Homo sapiens: one gene and its partners. The protein of the gene in region 4 interacts with the protein of the main gene of each other region in a pairwise test. Each region holds a gene or a part of one and is shown on either strand. Other genes may lie near its edges.

Evidence for each region.
Region 1: the proteins of U2AF2 (region 4) and splicing factor U2AF 35 kDa subunit-like protein interact in binary tests that used the Homo sapiens proteins (3 or more experiments, as listed by UniProt).
Region 2: the proteins of U2AF2 (region 4) and ZNF57 interact in binary tests that used the Homo sapiens proteins (3 or more experiments, as listed by UniProt).
Region 3: the proteins of U2AF2 (region 4) and RBM10 interact in binary tests that used the Homo sapiens proteins (3 or more experiments, as listed by UniProt).

The regions. Positions count from the first base shown.
Region 1 is NC_000021.9:6,489,212-6,492,789, forward strand, and holds part of splicing factor U2AF 35 kDa subunit-like protein, read right to left. Parts: intron 3,082-3,578; coding exon of another isoform or gene 3,044-3,081; intron 2,987-3,043; coding exon 2,920-2,986; intron 1-2,919. UniProt on the Homo sapiens protein: Plays a critical role in both constitutive and enhancer-dependent splicing by mediating protein-protein interactions and protein-RNA interactions required for accurate 3'-splice site selection. Recruits U2 snRNP to the branch point.
Region 2 is NC_000019.10:2,899,569-2,903,764, forward strand, and holds the start of ZNF57 (zinc finger protein 57), read left to right. Parts: upstream 1-1,359; 5' UTR 1,360-1,477; coding exon 1,478-1,480; intron 1,481-4,196. UniProt on the Homo sapiens protein: May be involved in transcriptional regulation.
Region 3 is NC_000023.11:47,169,180-47,172,757, forward strand, and holds part of RBM10 (RNA-binding protein 10), read left to right. Parts: intron 1-135; coding exon 136-319; intron 320-1,848; coding exon 1,849-2,079; intron 2,080-3,578. UniProt on the Homo sapiens protein: Binds to ssRNA containing the consensus sequence 5'-AGGUAA-3'. May be involved in post-transcriptional processing, most probably in mRNA splicing. Binds to RNA homopolymers, with a preference for poly(G) and poly(U) and little for poly(A).
Region 4 is NC_000019.10:55,661,535-55,665,112, forward strand, and holds part of U2AF2 (splicing factor U2AF 65 kDa subunit), read left to right. Parts: intron 1-236; exon of another isoform or gene 237-296; intron 297-967; coding exon 968-1,084; intron 1,085-2,071; coding exon 2,072-2,210; intron 2,211-3,578. UniProt on the Homo sapiens protein: Plays a role in pre-mRNA splicing and 3'-end processing. By recruiting PRPF19 and the PRP19C/Prp19 complex/NTC/Nineteen complex to the RNA polymerase II C-terminal domain (CTD), and thereby pre-mRNA, may couple transcription to splicing.

The sequences.
Region 1 (3,578 bases), on a different chromosome or scaffold from region 4:
TGCCTTAGCCTGTGCACCCAACGTGGGCATCTGACTGCTGGCACACGGGTCTTTGAGCTTGCTCAAAACTCTTTTTATCTTTTTTTTTTTTTTTTTTTGAGACAGCGTCTCACTGTCTCCAGGCTGGAGTGCAATGGCGTGATCTTGGCTAATTTTTGTAGTTTTAGTAGAGACGGGGTTCCACCATGTTGGCCAGGATGGTCTCAATCTCTCGACCTCGTGATCCACTTGCCTCGGCTTTCCAAAGTGCTGGGATTACAGGTGTGAGCCACCGTGCCCGGCCCCCTTTTTATCTTTGAAGATAAAAAATAACTTCTTATTTTCTAATTCTGAGAATGATTTAAGTTCACTTTCTAACCTATCCGGGGCTGTTTTAATTATTTTTGAACTTCCAGGAATCTGCTTTCGAACCCAAATTTTATTAAGTGTAACTACTCGGACAGCCTGCCAATCATATCACAGGATATCCCAATTGGAAAGCTATTGGGAATGTACCTTCCTCCCCGAGTAGAAATCAAGTTATAAACGGCCAAAGTAGCCTATTCCAAAGGGCAGATTTTAATATTTCAAATTCACTTCCTTCCCACATAAGAAGAATGTGAAGAGGAGAAAATTATTCACATGCTCAAAGTTTTAGCAGGTTTGAGAAATGGTTTTGGGGTGATTATTTTAAATTATTGGCTATATTTGTTCTGCTTAAAATGTTTCAATCAAAGTGACTTGAAAGGCAGAGACAACTGCATTAAGATACAATTAAAAACTTATTTGTGACTCAGCCTATGTTAAATACTACAACTTGGAAAATAAAGCAGTTTTCTTACAGAAATATCATTCTTAAACTGGGATTGATAGTTAACTTTAACCCACGCATTTGAAGCTTATTTTTTTACATACTAAAGGGTATGTTGAAAAGAGCCAGTAATTTTAGGTAATTGATTTCTTCCTAAAATGACGAATTAGAATTTCATCTAATTTGTACAATCTGGACTCCAGAATTGGAATATAACGTAATTGCTAAACTTTTAGTTTGTAGCATATGGAAAACAAAAGTGCTGTGAACTGCAAATAAAGACACAATGAAAACTAATACAACATTCTATTGTCAGTCAAGAAAGCATATACAGTCCCCAAATAAACGATCAGGGCAAAGAATTAATTACTGTTACTCAGTCATGTACTTCCATTCACTTTTATCCCAGGGCAGGGTTGTTAACAAAAATTATTTAATAAGTGCATATAGAAACAATTTCCCTCCGCCTATTGATCTTATTTCCTTAAAAAACAAAAGAAAACAAACAAACAAAAAAACAGGTATTTTAAACCAAGGGTTACCAAGTAAATCCTGCTACCATCCGACTCAGGGAAAGAAATCTCTACTATCAGGTCAGTATTAGCACTGAAAAGCATTTAGTGTCTTGGCAGGAAAAGTTGACAAGAAAATCTCATCCACACATAGAAATGTGCACCACTGTGCAAGGAAGCACAATCCCCAGGCCACCCAGTGCAGGGCCAGCTCGAGAGGGGAATGCCCCCTGGGATCAGCTACCCCATGTCGGTCACCCCATTAACTGAGGGGCTCTGGTTCAAGGGTGTACTCAATTTAGGCTTGTGGATATCCAAGGGCACCTCAATTTTTACTGCTTTAAAACAGAATGGTGAATGGGAAGTGCCTATCTTTGGTTTGGACTTTCTGATTTTAACAAGAGTCCAGGTGTTCATTTTAATTTATCCATAAATGACTAAATTCTAATGATTCTATAGTTGGATGGCTGTAAAAATCAAATTTTAGTTTTCTGAACTTCCCAATCATACTCATCTATGATATCTCCTTCTCTAAAAATTATCATTAGGTAAATATTCACAATCTAAATTTAGTATTTCCCAGTACAGGAAGATATTGGTACCATCTACTGAATGCCCAGTTTTGATCTATTTCTAAATGGAGCAAACCAATTCCATCTCCTAGAGCTGGAGACTGTATCCAGGCAGTGTGTGGACAGAACGGACAATCTTTTCTGCCAAGGGCCTATTTGAGTGGAGCACCCCCACACGGGTTAGACGGGTCGGCACGGGGCTGGTGGGTGAGGAACTCAGGGGTCAGTGCAAGCTGCAGACCCTCATTTGGGGAACGCTCTCAGCACAATGCTCTTACAACTACAGGGTGCACTCCAAAATGGAGTTCAAGGAAAAAAGGCTAATGAGAAATAAAATCTGAAAAAATAACTTAAAAAGTTTGCTTTTTAAAAATTCCAGAAAGTGAGAGAAACATTCAAATTTTGTTGCTCTAAGAGGGAAGAATATGACTCGACGTTTAATTCCAGTACATTCCCTCTAGGATGACGGCCAAAGTAAAGGAAGAAGGGGCAGCAGCAGCTCCAGACTGGTTTTTTTTTTTTTTTTTTTTTTTTGGAGACGGAGTCTCACTCTGTCGCCCAGGCTGGAGTGCAGCGGCACGATCTCAGTTCACTGCAACCTCCGCCTCCCGGGTTCAAGCGATTCTCTGCCTCAGCCTCCCTAGAAGCTGGGATTGCAGGCATCTGCCACCACGCCCAGCTAATTTTTGTATCTTTAGTAGAGATGGGGTTTCACCATGTTGGCCAGATTGGTCTTGAACTCCTGACCTCATGATCCACCCGCCTCGGCCTCCCAAAGTGCTGGGATTACAGGCGTGAGCCACCGCGCCCGGCCCAGCTCTAGACTGTTTTAAAGGGCACCCTTTCCAGTTACTTTTTCCCTTTTAACACACGGTGGGAGTTCAAATCTCCAAAAGAGGTTTCCATGGGGTCAGTGGGACGAAAGCTCCTTGCCACCTCTAGTGAAACGCGGTCCTTGACACTAGCACGGCAGACCAGATGGAGTGGACACTGAGCTCTGACACGCAAGCCCAGGGAACCGGGGAAGGAACTTGTATGAACTTACAGCGCAAACCGTCAGCAGACTGGGAAGAGTTTTGAGGGTTACGGTAAATGTTCAAGAGGGCAATGGTCTGAAATACAAAACGCAACAACTTTATATTATGGAAAATTAAAGGTAAACACTTAACCGGCTGCCTCTGGCAAGTGCTTCAGTTGAGATTCAGTGCTGAAAAGAGAGCAAGTTATTTTCTGGAGAAGCAGAGGCGTTTTCTCAGTTGGCGGCTGCCTTGAATCCCTAACACTGCGGTGTAACGGAGGTCTCATGATATGCCCATCTTGTACTTCTGCTTACAGAACGTGAAAACTCTCCTTTTCAAAATTCCAATTCAGGTAAAAGCACAAATAGTTTGCCAGGCTAGCACCAAAATGTTCTTAGATGTGGCAGAAAATTTTTAATGAACTCGGAAAGAATAATGCTTACATAAACTGATGGAAAAAATTACTGTATTAGAGAAATACAATTGTTACATATCATGAAATCTCCACTTCCTGGAGGAAAAATTATAATGGTGAAATAAAACCCACACTTACTGGGCAACTTACCTTATTGATTCCTTAATATTCCTAAGAGTTTTAATTTTACACAAAGAACTTAATAAAGGCCAGGGGTTCAGTCACTGTAAAGACCAATGAATGGCTCAAAATGTTGAAATCCGTTTCACA
Region 2 (4,196 bases), about 53 Mb from region 4:
GAGTTCAAGACCAGCTTGGCCAACATAGTGAAACCCCCGTCTCTACTAAAAATACAAAAATTAGCCGGACGTGGTGGCAGGCGCCTGTAATCTCAGCTACTCGGGAGGCTGAGGCAGGAGAATCGCTTTAACCCTGAAGGCGGAGGTTGCAGTGAGCCGAGATCACGCCACTGCACTCCAGCCGGGGCGACAGTGTGAGACTCCGTCTCAAAATAAAAAAATAAATAAAACAAAAAACAATGTCCAACAAAAAAACAAATCCAGCGAGGCCAGACAGGATAGGGGCTCCCTGGGGTCCGCCCATTTTCGGGATCAGGTGACTCGAGGTTTGGTCCTTATTTTAGTGCAGGCTCAGATGTCGGGGGCGAGCCAAAGTGCAGGGGCCTGTGGGAAGGACAGGAGGCTGGGAAACGTTTGGGTAAAAAAATCAGGACACTGGCCGTGCGCGGTGGCTCACGCCTGTAATCCCAGCACTTTGGGAGGCCGAGGCGGGCCGATCACGAGGTCAGGAGATCGAGACCATCCTGGCTAACACGGTGAAACCTCGTCTCTACTAAAAATACAAAAAAATTAGCCGGCGTGGTGGCGGGTGCCTGTGTCCCAGCTACTCGGGAGGCTGAGGTAGGAGAATGGCCTGAACCCGGGAGGCGGAGCTTGCAGTGAGCCGAGATGGCGCCACTGCACTCCAGCCTGGGCGACAGAGCGAGACTCCACCTCAAAAAAAAAAAAAAAAAAAAAAAAAAAAATCAGGACACTGACAGCACGTGCTCCAGCACGGGGCAGGGCCTCCATGGGGTCCGCGCCCACGCGGGGCAGCGCGGTGACGTCACGGCTGAGGACCCCGCCCCACGAAGGGCTCACCCCACGCGACCCACGCCGCTCGCTCGCCCCTCCCCTCCACGCAGCACTCCGGCTGCTCCGTGGGGAAACTGAGTCTGGACTTCTCGTGCCCGTTCGGGAGAAGGACGCGGGAGGCGCGGCCGAGCTGCGGGGAGAGGTTGGGCTCACCCCGGGCCAGAGCGAGTTCGCGCAAACGGGAGTGTCCACCGCTGGCGGGTCAGCCACTAGCGTTGGCTACGCGCCGGTCACTCGGGCGACAGGAGGCGGGGCGGCGCGGAAGTTATCTTCCAATCAGGTGCTCCGGGGGCGGGTCCGGAAAACTGTCCAATCAAGGCACGGGGCGGACACCGGGAAGCGGATTGCAGGTTTGCAGTAGTGTCCAATCGAAGGCCCCAGGGGTGAAGGGGGCGTGTCCAAAACGCTGTCCGCTCAGAGCGTTGAAAGGGCGGGGGCTTAGAGATTGTCCAATCAGGGCGCCGCTTCCTGAGCTCCGAGGCCCCGAGGGCGGGACGTTTCGTCCTCCCTGCCGCGCGTGCCCTGCCTACCACGAGCGGCCCGGGAGTACCTGTACCTTTCAGCTGCGCCGGCCGCGAGGCCACGGAGAGCTCGCCTTGGAGAGCCCAGGAGCAGGGGAGACATGGTGAGTGCGAGGCAGGAGCAGAGCCAGGGGACGGTCGGAGCGACGGGAACCGGCTGGAACCAGAGTCCGCCGAAGTCTGCGGCCGGGATTGGCTGAGGGACGCGCGGGGCGGCGCAGGACTAGCACCTGGGACCCGGGGACGCCATCACAGCGGCCGGGCTGGAGGACTGGGGGCAGTTTGGGGGGACGGAAGGGGCGGCAAGGAGCTTGGGGGTAACTTAGGGGGAGGCCTGGGCAGGAGGGGGGCTGGAGGTAGTTTGGGGGGACGGTAGGGGCGGTCAGGGGTCAGGGACCAGTTTGGGGGGACGGCAAGGGACGGTCAGCAGGTTGGGGATGTTACGCGTGTCCGTATAAGAGGTCACCTGAGCAGGCTTAGTGTGAGCCACAAGGCTGTTTACTCACTTGGGTGCAAGTGGGCTGAGTCTGAGAAAGGACTCAGCAAAGGGTGATGGGATTATTATTGGTTTTATTTTTTTATTTTTTTTATTTTTGGGACGGAGTCCCGCTCTGTCGCCAGGCTGGAGTGCAGTGGCGTGATCTCGGCTCACTGCAACTTCCGCCTCCCGGGTTCAAGCGATTCTCCTGCCTCAGCCTCCGGAGTAGCTGAGATTACAGGCGCCCGCCCTCACGCCCGGCTAATTTTTGTTTTTAGTAGAGACAGGGTTTCACCATGTTGGCCAGAATGGTCTCGATCTCTTGACCTTGTGATCCGCCCGCCTCGGCCTCCCAAAGTGCTGGGATTACAGGCGTGAGCCACCGCGCCCGGCAATCATTAGTCCTTATAGGTTTGGGACAGGCATCGGAGTTAGGAGCAGTTTTTTTGAGGACAGTTGGTGGGTGTTACAAAGTACATTCTCAAGGGCGGCGACGATGTTTCAAAGTACATTCACAAGGGCTTGGGGGATGTATTGTCACAAGGGCTGGGAGGAATATTACAAAGTACCTTCACAAGGGCGCGAGCGTGTATTGTCACAAGGGCGGGGTACATTCACAAGGGCGAGGAGGACGTATCGTACAAAGTACATTCACAAGGGCGGGGGAATATCACAAAGTACATTATCACAAGGGCGGGGGGCTTGACCATGGTGCGGCCAGCTCAGAGAACCTTACAGGGGACAGCTTGGGGGGATGGCAAGGGACGGCCTGGGGGTCAGAGGCAGTTTGGGGGACGACCTCAGCGGTGGGAGTTAGCTGCCCTGGGGGTTTTGTTGCAGGGTATCACTAATGCTGTGAAAGCTTTATTCGGGCAGCCGGTGTCAGTAAATGTACTGTACTGTTCTCCTGTTTGGCTTTTTTCTTCTCCTTAGTGACAATAGGAAAATGTTCAAGTGTGTTTTCTGCCTTCTGGTCCGTCAGGATAACACCTGTTTATCGTGGGGTACAGGCTAAGCATGGCCTAAGGAAGTCTCTCAGGAATATTCTGTCTCCCACCAGAATTGTAGAGAAAGTGTGCGCAGTTCCACATCTTATAGCAGCTAGAGATGGATTAAAATGTTCATAAAAATAGTAGTTTTTCAAATGCCAAAGCAATCAGACAAAAAATAATAGTTATTCTTCCATACAAGGTGCAGAGTTTGCGACAGTGTGTGATCGTGTTCCATTTCAGTTCAGCTAGACATGAGATTAATGCAAATTCTGCAAAAACCTGTAAAACTGAGGCGTGTTCCATTCTGGTTAGTTTCCAGTTTGTCACCAGGAGTATTGCTTCACTGATCCATCATCTGTTTGCTGACTGGGAAAAGCAGTTTCTGGCCATGTAAAGTCATAAAGACTGCCTTGGAACTCCCTTCCCCCACTTACACAAGGGGTGGAAAGCACTGATTCTGCTGCATTCTCACTCTACGGGATGAGGGTCTTTGTGGCATTTAAAGTGTAGCACCTGGAGCAGGGAGGTGAGCCCCAAGACCGGTGACTCCAGCTGAGCCCACAGTTGAGCCTGCACTGGAGGCCGCTGAGGGTGCAGCGGGGTCTGGCTGGGCAGCCTCCACTTGCTCAGTCCTCCTGCCTCGTAGAACAGCCGCAGCGGGAACTGTTCATGCTGATTGAGGCTGCTGAGCATGGGAAAGACGATTGTCCTGGAGATGTGCTTGTGGGCGTTTTAGCCTTTCTGAGGTTGCACCTGTGCTGTCTTGGAGCCGTTTCTAAGCAGTGGGTTTAGTTTATGCTTTAAGTGTTGTTTTTCTTTTTTGGAGACACTGTGTCTCCCAGGCTGGAGTACAGTGGCGTGATCTCCACACATTGTATCATCCGCCTCCCGGGTTCAAGCAATTCTCCTGCCTCAGCCTCCCGAGTAGCTGGGATTACAGGCACTTGCCACCACGACCGGCTAATTTTTATATTTTTAGTAGAGACGGGGTTTCGCCATGTTGGCCAGGCTGGTCTCAAACTCCTGACCTTAAGTGATCCACCCTCCTCCGCCTCCCAAAGTGCTGGGATTTCAGGCGTGAGCCACCGCGCCCGGCCTGGATTAAGTTTTAATATAAACACCAGTGGCCTTACTGCCCGCATAAATAGGCCTCCGGCCTCTCTTCAACACCTGTGTGCTGCTCCCAGCGCTCATCTCTGTTCTGCCCCCAGGGTAACCACTGTCCTGATTTTTTTTTTCATTCTCTCTACCTTTACCATTTATTATTTATCACCATACAGAGTTTTAATTTTGCCTCCTTTGAATTTTTTTTTTTTTTCAGGCAGGGTCTTACTCTGTCGCCCAGGCTGG
Region 3 (3,578 bases), on a different chromosome or scaffold from region 4:
TCAGAAGGGCACCTCACTTCTGTTGTATGCTCCTCCAAAAAAACCAAAACCCTACGAGAACACATCACCTGGGCCTCTTGCACCTTTTAGAAAGGGCAACCTTCTGATCCCTCCCCATCCTTCTTCCTCCACTAGTGGTGGTCGTGGTGACAGGACTGGCCGCTATGGAGCCACTGACCGCTCGCAGGATGATGGTGGGGAGAACCGCAGCCGAGACCACGACTACCGGGACATGGACTACCGTTCATATCCTCGCGAGTATGGCAGCCAGGAGGGCAAGCATGACTATGACGACTCATCTGAGGAGCAGAGTGCGGAGGTGAGGAGGGGGCGCGCTGCGCCAGGCCTGGCTGGGATGGGCTCCCAAGGGCCCTCTGTGTCTGGCTGCAGCACCGTGTGCAGGCAGCTCTCCACTCCCGTGCCTTCAGACTGTGCTCGGTGGCTTTGCCTCACCTGGAGGGCCTGTTCCCACTCCCCTCTCTGAGGGCTCCTCTCCCAACCTGGGTCTCCCTGGCTTCCACATGCTTGGCTCTGTACTTCTGAGGGCCCCTGGCCACCACTCTTTCCCTTTCTCCCTGTTGTTCAGTTCGGGCCCATGGCTCACTGTGAACCCTGTACTGCCCGCTCCCAGCCAACTTGGGCACTTGAAGAGCCTCTTCCATGGGACCCGGCGTCTGGGGTTGGGAGGACAACAAGGGGACTGCAGACCACCAAGCTGAGGAGCTCTGGGAGGCCAGCCATGGGCATTCCCAGTGGTGATAGAGCCCCTAGACAGAAGGGAAGGACCCTTCTGGAGAAGCCAGTGCCATGTTGGGTAGTTCACCCTAGCCTGCGGGATGAGGCGCGATGTTTACACCATCAGGGAGCCCCCACCCGAGGGGAAGAAACAGGCTTGCCTTAGGGGAATCCCAGTTGGAGGGGCAGTCAGGGACCTGGTCCATGCGAGCAGGCAGCTCTCCTGTCCAGCAGGCTGGGAAGGGAGTTCTTGCAAGCCCAGCCCTGGGGGGCAGTCTGTGAGCTGCCCACTGCCCTCTGGAGGGTCCAGGGCAAAAACCCCTTTGGTGGACTGCCAGGCTTCTCCAGTGGCAGCTGTCAAGCTGTGCCCAGACGTCTCCAGGAGCACTGGGCCCTGGCCAGGGTGGGAATGGAGCACCAAGTTATCTGGTGCTTCCCCACTGTGGGCGGGAGGGCTTTGGCCCCAGGCCTGCTCTGCTTAGTCCTGGAATGGATGGATTGGGCAACAGCCCAGAGCCCAACAGCCATACCGTTTTGAGCGTGGTGTGTGGTGGAGGACTGGCCAAGGCTGAGGATCAGGGACTGAGGAGGGAGTGTCTGCAGCCCTCACACCACCTCCACCAGCTCCTGCTGCCTGGCTCTGGCTGAGATCTGAAGCTGTTCTTATGCCCCCAGCTTGGTTGCAGGGTGGAACCGTAGGAGACATGCAGCCTTCGGTGGTACAGTGAAGCAATTGAGCACACCCCCTGAGCTGGCCAGAGAGGAGAGGAAAATCAAGGGTGGGGTCTGGTGTGCTGACCCCAGGCCATCTTGCCCCAAGGAGGTTTAAGCTGTGTCTTGTCAGCTACCTTTGGGAGTTCCCCCCACACCAATACTGTCACCTACCTCTCCCCACCCACTGAAGGCAGCCCCCAAAAGGACCCCATGGAGAATTTACAGTCCCAGAAAGATTGCAGGCCGGGGCCTGCCCACCCTGCCTGCCTGAGCCTTTAGCCGGAGCCCGCACATCCCTGGCTTTCAGAGCCTGCCTGCCTCACAGAGCCAGCGGCCAGCTCCTAGGCCTGCCCAGACTGACTGCCCGTCTGGTGTCACTCATCTCATTCTGTCGGCCAGGATTCCTACGAGGCCTCCCCGGGCTCCGAGACTCAGCGTAGGCGGCGGCGGCGGCACAGGCACAGCCCCACCGGCCCGCCAGGCTTCCCCCGAGACGGCGACTATCGGGACCAGGACTATCGGACCGAGCAAGGGGAGGAGGAGGAGGAGGAGGAGGATGAGGAGGAGGAGGAGAAGGCCAGTAACATCGTCATGCTGAGGATGCTGCCACAGGCAGCCACTGAGGATGACGTACGTGCCCCCCATGGCCCCGGGCAGGAGGCCAGGCTGGGTCTCCTCCAGGGCCCTCAACTTCTCCCCACCCCTCCCTCACCTGCAACCTCAGCGCCTTTCATCCCTTCTCCCCCTCCAGCTCCTATCCCCCAGCACTGATCCGTCCTCTGTGGGCAGGTCCCATCGGCCCCCCGGTCTGGAGGGAGGAGTGTCAGAGAGGCCGGCTTGGCCAAGGGACATTGGCCATGGGTGTCTGGTAGTGGTGGGTATGGGCGGGAGAAGAGCAGTCCTGCACATTCCACTGGTCATCCAGCCATTTTGCATGTGTGCATCATGGGCCAGACGCTCACCGGGCCAGTGCTGGCTATTGCTGGTAGCAGAGATGACACTGGGGCCCTGTAACCATTGGGGGAGGGATGGGATTTTCTGAAATTTCCTTCTCTTTTTCCCCCATCCTTTTTTGTCAGCAGCCTGGCCTGGCCTCAGAGCCTTGGGTGGCTGCTAACAGCCTCCACGCCTGCCTCCCTTTCCTCCTGTTTCCTTTTCATACATACTTCTCATGACAGCCACACTGAAGCCCCACGAGGCCTACCAGAATAACCTCCAAGAATAGTGTCCTGATCTTGGTCCTTCTTAGTCTACTCCGCCGCCCCTCACCCCCTACCCCCATGAATTCTCTGATCAGCCCTCCTCTGAAATCTGCTAGCTGCTCATTTTGTAACAGAGAAAATCCCACTTGTGTATTTGAGGGTTTCTAAGGTCTGGCCCACCTGCCCTGTTCAGGGTCAGACAGTAGCTGGTTGCTGACATTTGTTGAGAATGTATCTCAGGGTGGGCCATGTGTTAGGTATGATTCAGTCCCCATGGCAGCCCAGCAGGGAAGGTACTCTTTGTATTCCATCCTTCGGATGAGGAAACCAAGCCCTGAGTGGGAATGTGACTTGCCCCAGGTCTCATAGCCAGTGAGTGGCAGAGCAGAGCTGGAGTCTGAACCCGGGCAGCTGGACCCTAGAGCCCACTTTTTGCTGCTTCCTCAGCCTTCCCTGAGTTTGGAGTCCTGATAAGCTCTTCTGTGTGTTTTTCCTTTTCACCCTGTGTATGGGTGTGTGTAAGGCTAATGTCCTGTCTGTTGTTTAACCTGGTGGGGAAACTGAGGCCCAGAGACATGAAGACTCCTTCCCAAGAATGGCTGGCATAGGCTCCTGGTCCTCAGTGAGAGACCTCACTGGCCTAGAGACCCTGCCTCACCTGGGCCAAATCCTGAATTGCCTCTGCAGTTTCCCTCTGGCCTACTCCATCTGGGAAGCAATCCCCAGGACTACATCTTTTTGCTTTTTGTCTCCACCCTAAGTTATTGCTACAGTCATGGTCTAGGGCACATGGCTGGGATTTGCTCAGACTCCTGTCCTCCCCAGTTTGACATTTATGTCATGGATCTCTTTTGACGCAAGCTGCAGGTCAGCAGGGCAGGGGCGGGGGTGCGGGTTATCCCCTTGCCAAGGGCAAGAATTGCATCC
Region 4 (3,578 bases):
CACACACAGACGCACGCTGCCCCTCAGTTTTTTTCTGACACGCCTCTCGTTCTCTGCCGCCTGTCCCCTATCCTCTCCCCCACGTCCCTCCCATGGTCGCTGTTCTTTTATTTTTGATCGCCCCTGACCTCCCCCTTCCCCACCACTCCTTTTCCCTCTCCCCTCTCCCCAACCCCTTCCTGTGGCACCCCCTGAGAATCCCGAGATCAAAGAGTTGTTTCCATTTCTCTTTAAAGTGAAATATTGTGGGGCTGAGATCCCTCGTAGCAACAAAAAGTTTGCTACCATCGTCGAAGGCAAGTAAGGTCCATTCTGACTTTCTCAACCTGCACTTTGCTACATTTGATAAACCAGCCCCCGGACTCCAGGGCCAGATTCCTCCACATCACTCTTTTCTCCTCCCCTCCCGTCCCTGCCCCTCCTCCCTACACTCCTCCTCTCCTGCCCCTGCACTCTTGACTTCCTCCTCCTCGCTCGTCTCTGTCCTGCTCTCCCTTTCTGTCCTTTGCTCGTCTCTGCCCCTGCCTGCCACTTCCTTTCTACTTTCCTGCCACTTTTCTGTCTGTCTCCACTGGGTGGCCCTTCCTGTGTGCTCTGTCTCTTCATCTCTTGTGTTTCGTGTTTTTCTTCATTTTGTGTTGTCATCATGCCCTCTGCCTTTTCTTGAACAATCTTCTCCTTTCCCCTGATTTTTTGGGGCCCCTGTGGCTGTCCCCCAACGCCTGTCCATCGCCTGCCCTTGGCCGTCTCTTGCTACTGCTTCCTCCCCATTTTCTCTCTTGCTTCTGTTCTTACTATTGACTTCTACACCCCCACCCATATTCCACTGTTCCTTCCCCCCCTCCTCCCTCCCCTCATCCCTCTCCCCTTACCCCCAAACCCCTCTGTGTCTCCCTCTCTCACCCTTCCCCTCCTCTCTCCACCTCCCTTCCCCCGCCCCCCCCCTTGTCTCCTATTCCCTCTGCAGGAGGCCATGATGGATTTCTTCAACGCCCAGATGCGCCTGGGGGGGCTGACCCAGGCCCCTGGCAACCCAGTGTTGGCTGTGCAGATTAACCAGGACAAGAATTTTGCCTTTTTGGAGGTGAGCTGGGGGAGTGAGTGAGGTCCAGGAAACGTGTGTGATGTGAGGGCCCAGCCCTTAGGCTGATGTTGTGTGGAGCTGCCTTGTGCTGTTTCCACCAGGCCCTCTGCAGCCTCTTCTCCACCCGGTCGCTGAAGTGAGCCCTGTTATAGCATTACAGATCTGATCCTACTTTCTGCCTTCCATTTGCTTTCTGTGTGACCTGAGAGGCCTGTTTGGCCTCTGTAGACCTCTTTGGCCTTTTCCAGACCATTCCGGCCCAGTCCTCTCTGCACTCTGGCCACACTGACCTTCCCAGAACCTACCATGCTCCTGCCTGCTTGGCTAGAGTTCTTTACACCAGCTAACTGATGTTCCTAACTAGTCTTCTGTTACCCCAGCTAACTGATGTTCCTAACTAGTCTTCTGTGTCTGTGTTTCTCAACTGTCGGGAAAAGGCCTTGGTTTTTGATTTTCGACTCTTGGTGGACTGATAACTCTCATGAAGTATTGTGAAGGTGTGGGCAGTGTTAGCTTACTGCAGAGATTTCTGAGCACTCCCTCTCACTGTCTGAGCACTCCCTCTCACTCTGTCCCTCTCACTCTGTCTTTGCCTCACTGCAGTCCACTTGCAGTTGCATTGCTCCGGAGATGGGCTGAAATGTCCCCCTCACCAGAAAGACTCCAGTACTGTCATCTCCCCGTTCAACTAACCTTTCCCGTAACATCCCTTTTCAGCACTTTGTCCCTCTTCCGTGTCATCACAGCCTGCAATTGTGTGTTTGCCTCTGTGTTTGTGTTGGGTGCCTGGTGTTTTTAATGGTCGAGTGTGAGCTCCTGGCAGCAGGGACATGCGTGTCTGTTGTACTCCCAGTGCCCAGCCTGGGGCCTGGCATGTTGTATTTGTTCACATGAGTGAAAGGAAAGAGGAAATCCCAATCCTGGAACACTAGGGGCTGTACTAGTCCCTGACCCCCATCCCTCACCACTCCTTTCTCTTTCATTCAGTTCCGCTCAGTGGACGAGACTACCCAGGCTATGGCCTTTGATGGCATCATCTTCCAGGGCCAGTCACTAAAGATCCGCAGGCCTCACGACTACCAGCCGCTTCCTGGCATGTCAGAGAACCCCTCCGTCTATGTGCCTGGTGAGTGGGGGATCCATTAAGGGCCCCTTTCTCCCCCAGTCCTGTTCCCATGGCCTGTCCATCCCTTCAGCCCAGCTGGAGTGGCTTAGGAAGTTGTGTAAGTACTGTGGAAGATAGGTGCCTTTTCCCTGCTTCCCCTAAGTCTCTGTGAGTGGGGTGCTCTCCTGCTGGTAGAGAAGGTGCCTAGGGCCGGGAGAATGAGCTGTCACCTGCTGAGGACACACAGCTTGTACGTGGCAGAGCCAGGATCAGACCAAAGGTGCTGGGGAAGCGAGGGGCTTGTGGCCTGGACCTCGTGCCTGCGTTGCGGCTGTGGGACCTTGGAGGGCTCAGTCTGTGCCCGTCGGGGCTGCTGTGTGTCGACGGTTGGCAGCAAAGCTGCTGCTGTGGGGTCTGGCACCTGGGTATTCACTTGTTTTTGTCTCCTAGTGTTTGCCTTGAATCTTGTGTTCTGGGCCATTCCCCATAGCTGTGTTGAACATCATCTGTAATTGGTAGGTAACATAGCAGACCAGGGGTTGGCGACCATGTCACTGTGTGTGAAAGCAGCCGGACGGTGTCTGCGTGCGTGGGCCTGGCTGTGTGCCGGCACACCTCGACACGCGTGGCTGCTGAGGTTGGGCTTTCCTGTGCTTCTCACAGGCCACAGAATGGTCTCCCTTTAGAAAGCTTGCAGGATGTGCAAAACCAGGTGATGGGCCCTGTCAGCCCACAGGCTATAGTTGGCTGACCCTTGTAGCTGATGAATGGGATTTGAGGGAGGGCTTGTCTGATGCCCTGTCAGGGTGCGGCTGTGTCTCAGGCCTGGGACATGGAGGAGGTGGGGTTCTGCTGGCGGGTACTCACTGTTCGAGGAGCCCTTTAGGAACTGAGTCAGCTCTTCAGGGCAGGCGATGTGGAGCCCCAGACGGAGGCACATCTGTGTCAGGCAGGACTTGGGCTAGGTCCCTCACTGGCCTCCAGTGCTTTTCTTTTTGTTGTTGTTGTTGTTTTGAGACAGTCTCGCTCTGTCACCCAGGCTGGAATGCAGTGGCACGATCTCGGCTTACTGCATCCTCCGCCTCTAGGGTTCAAGCAATTCTCCTGCTTCAGCCTCCCGAGCAGCTGGGATTACAGGCACCTGCCACCATGTCTGGCTAATTTTTGTATTTTTAGTAGAGGGTGGGTTTCACCATGTTGGTCAGGTTGGTCTCCGACGCCTGACCTCAAGTGATCCGCTCACCTCAGTCTCCCAGAGTGTTGGGATTACAGGCATGAGCCACTGCGCTCAGCCCAGTGCTTTTCCATCATGGGTTTTGGTAAATTCAGCTAACCTTTTGGAGCCTGTAATATATGTTGACATGCTCCCAATCGACATGGACTTTTTAC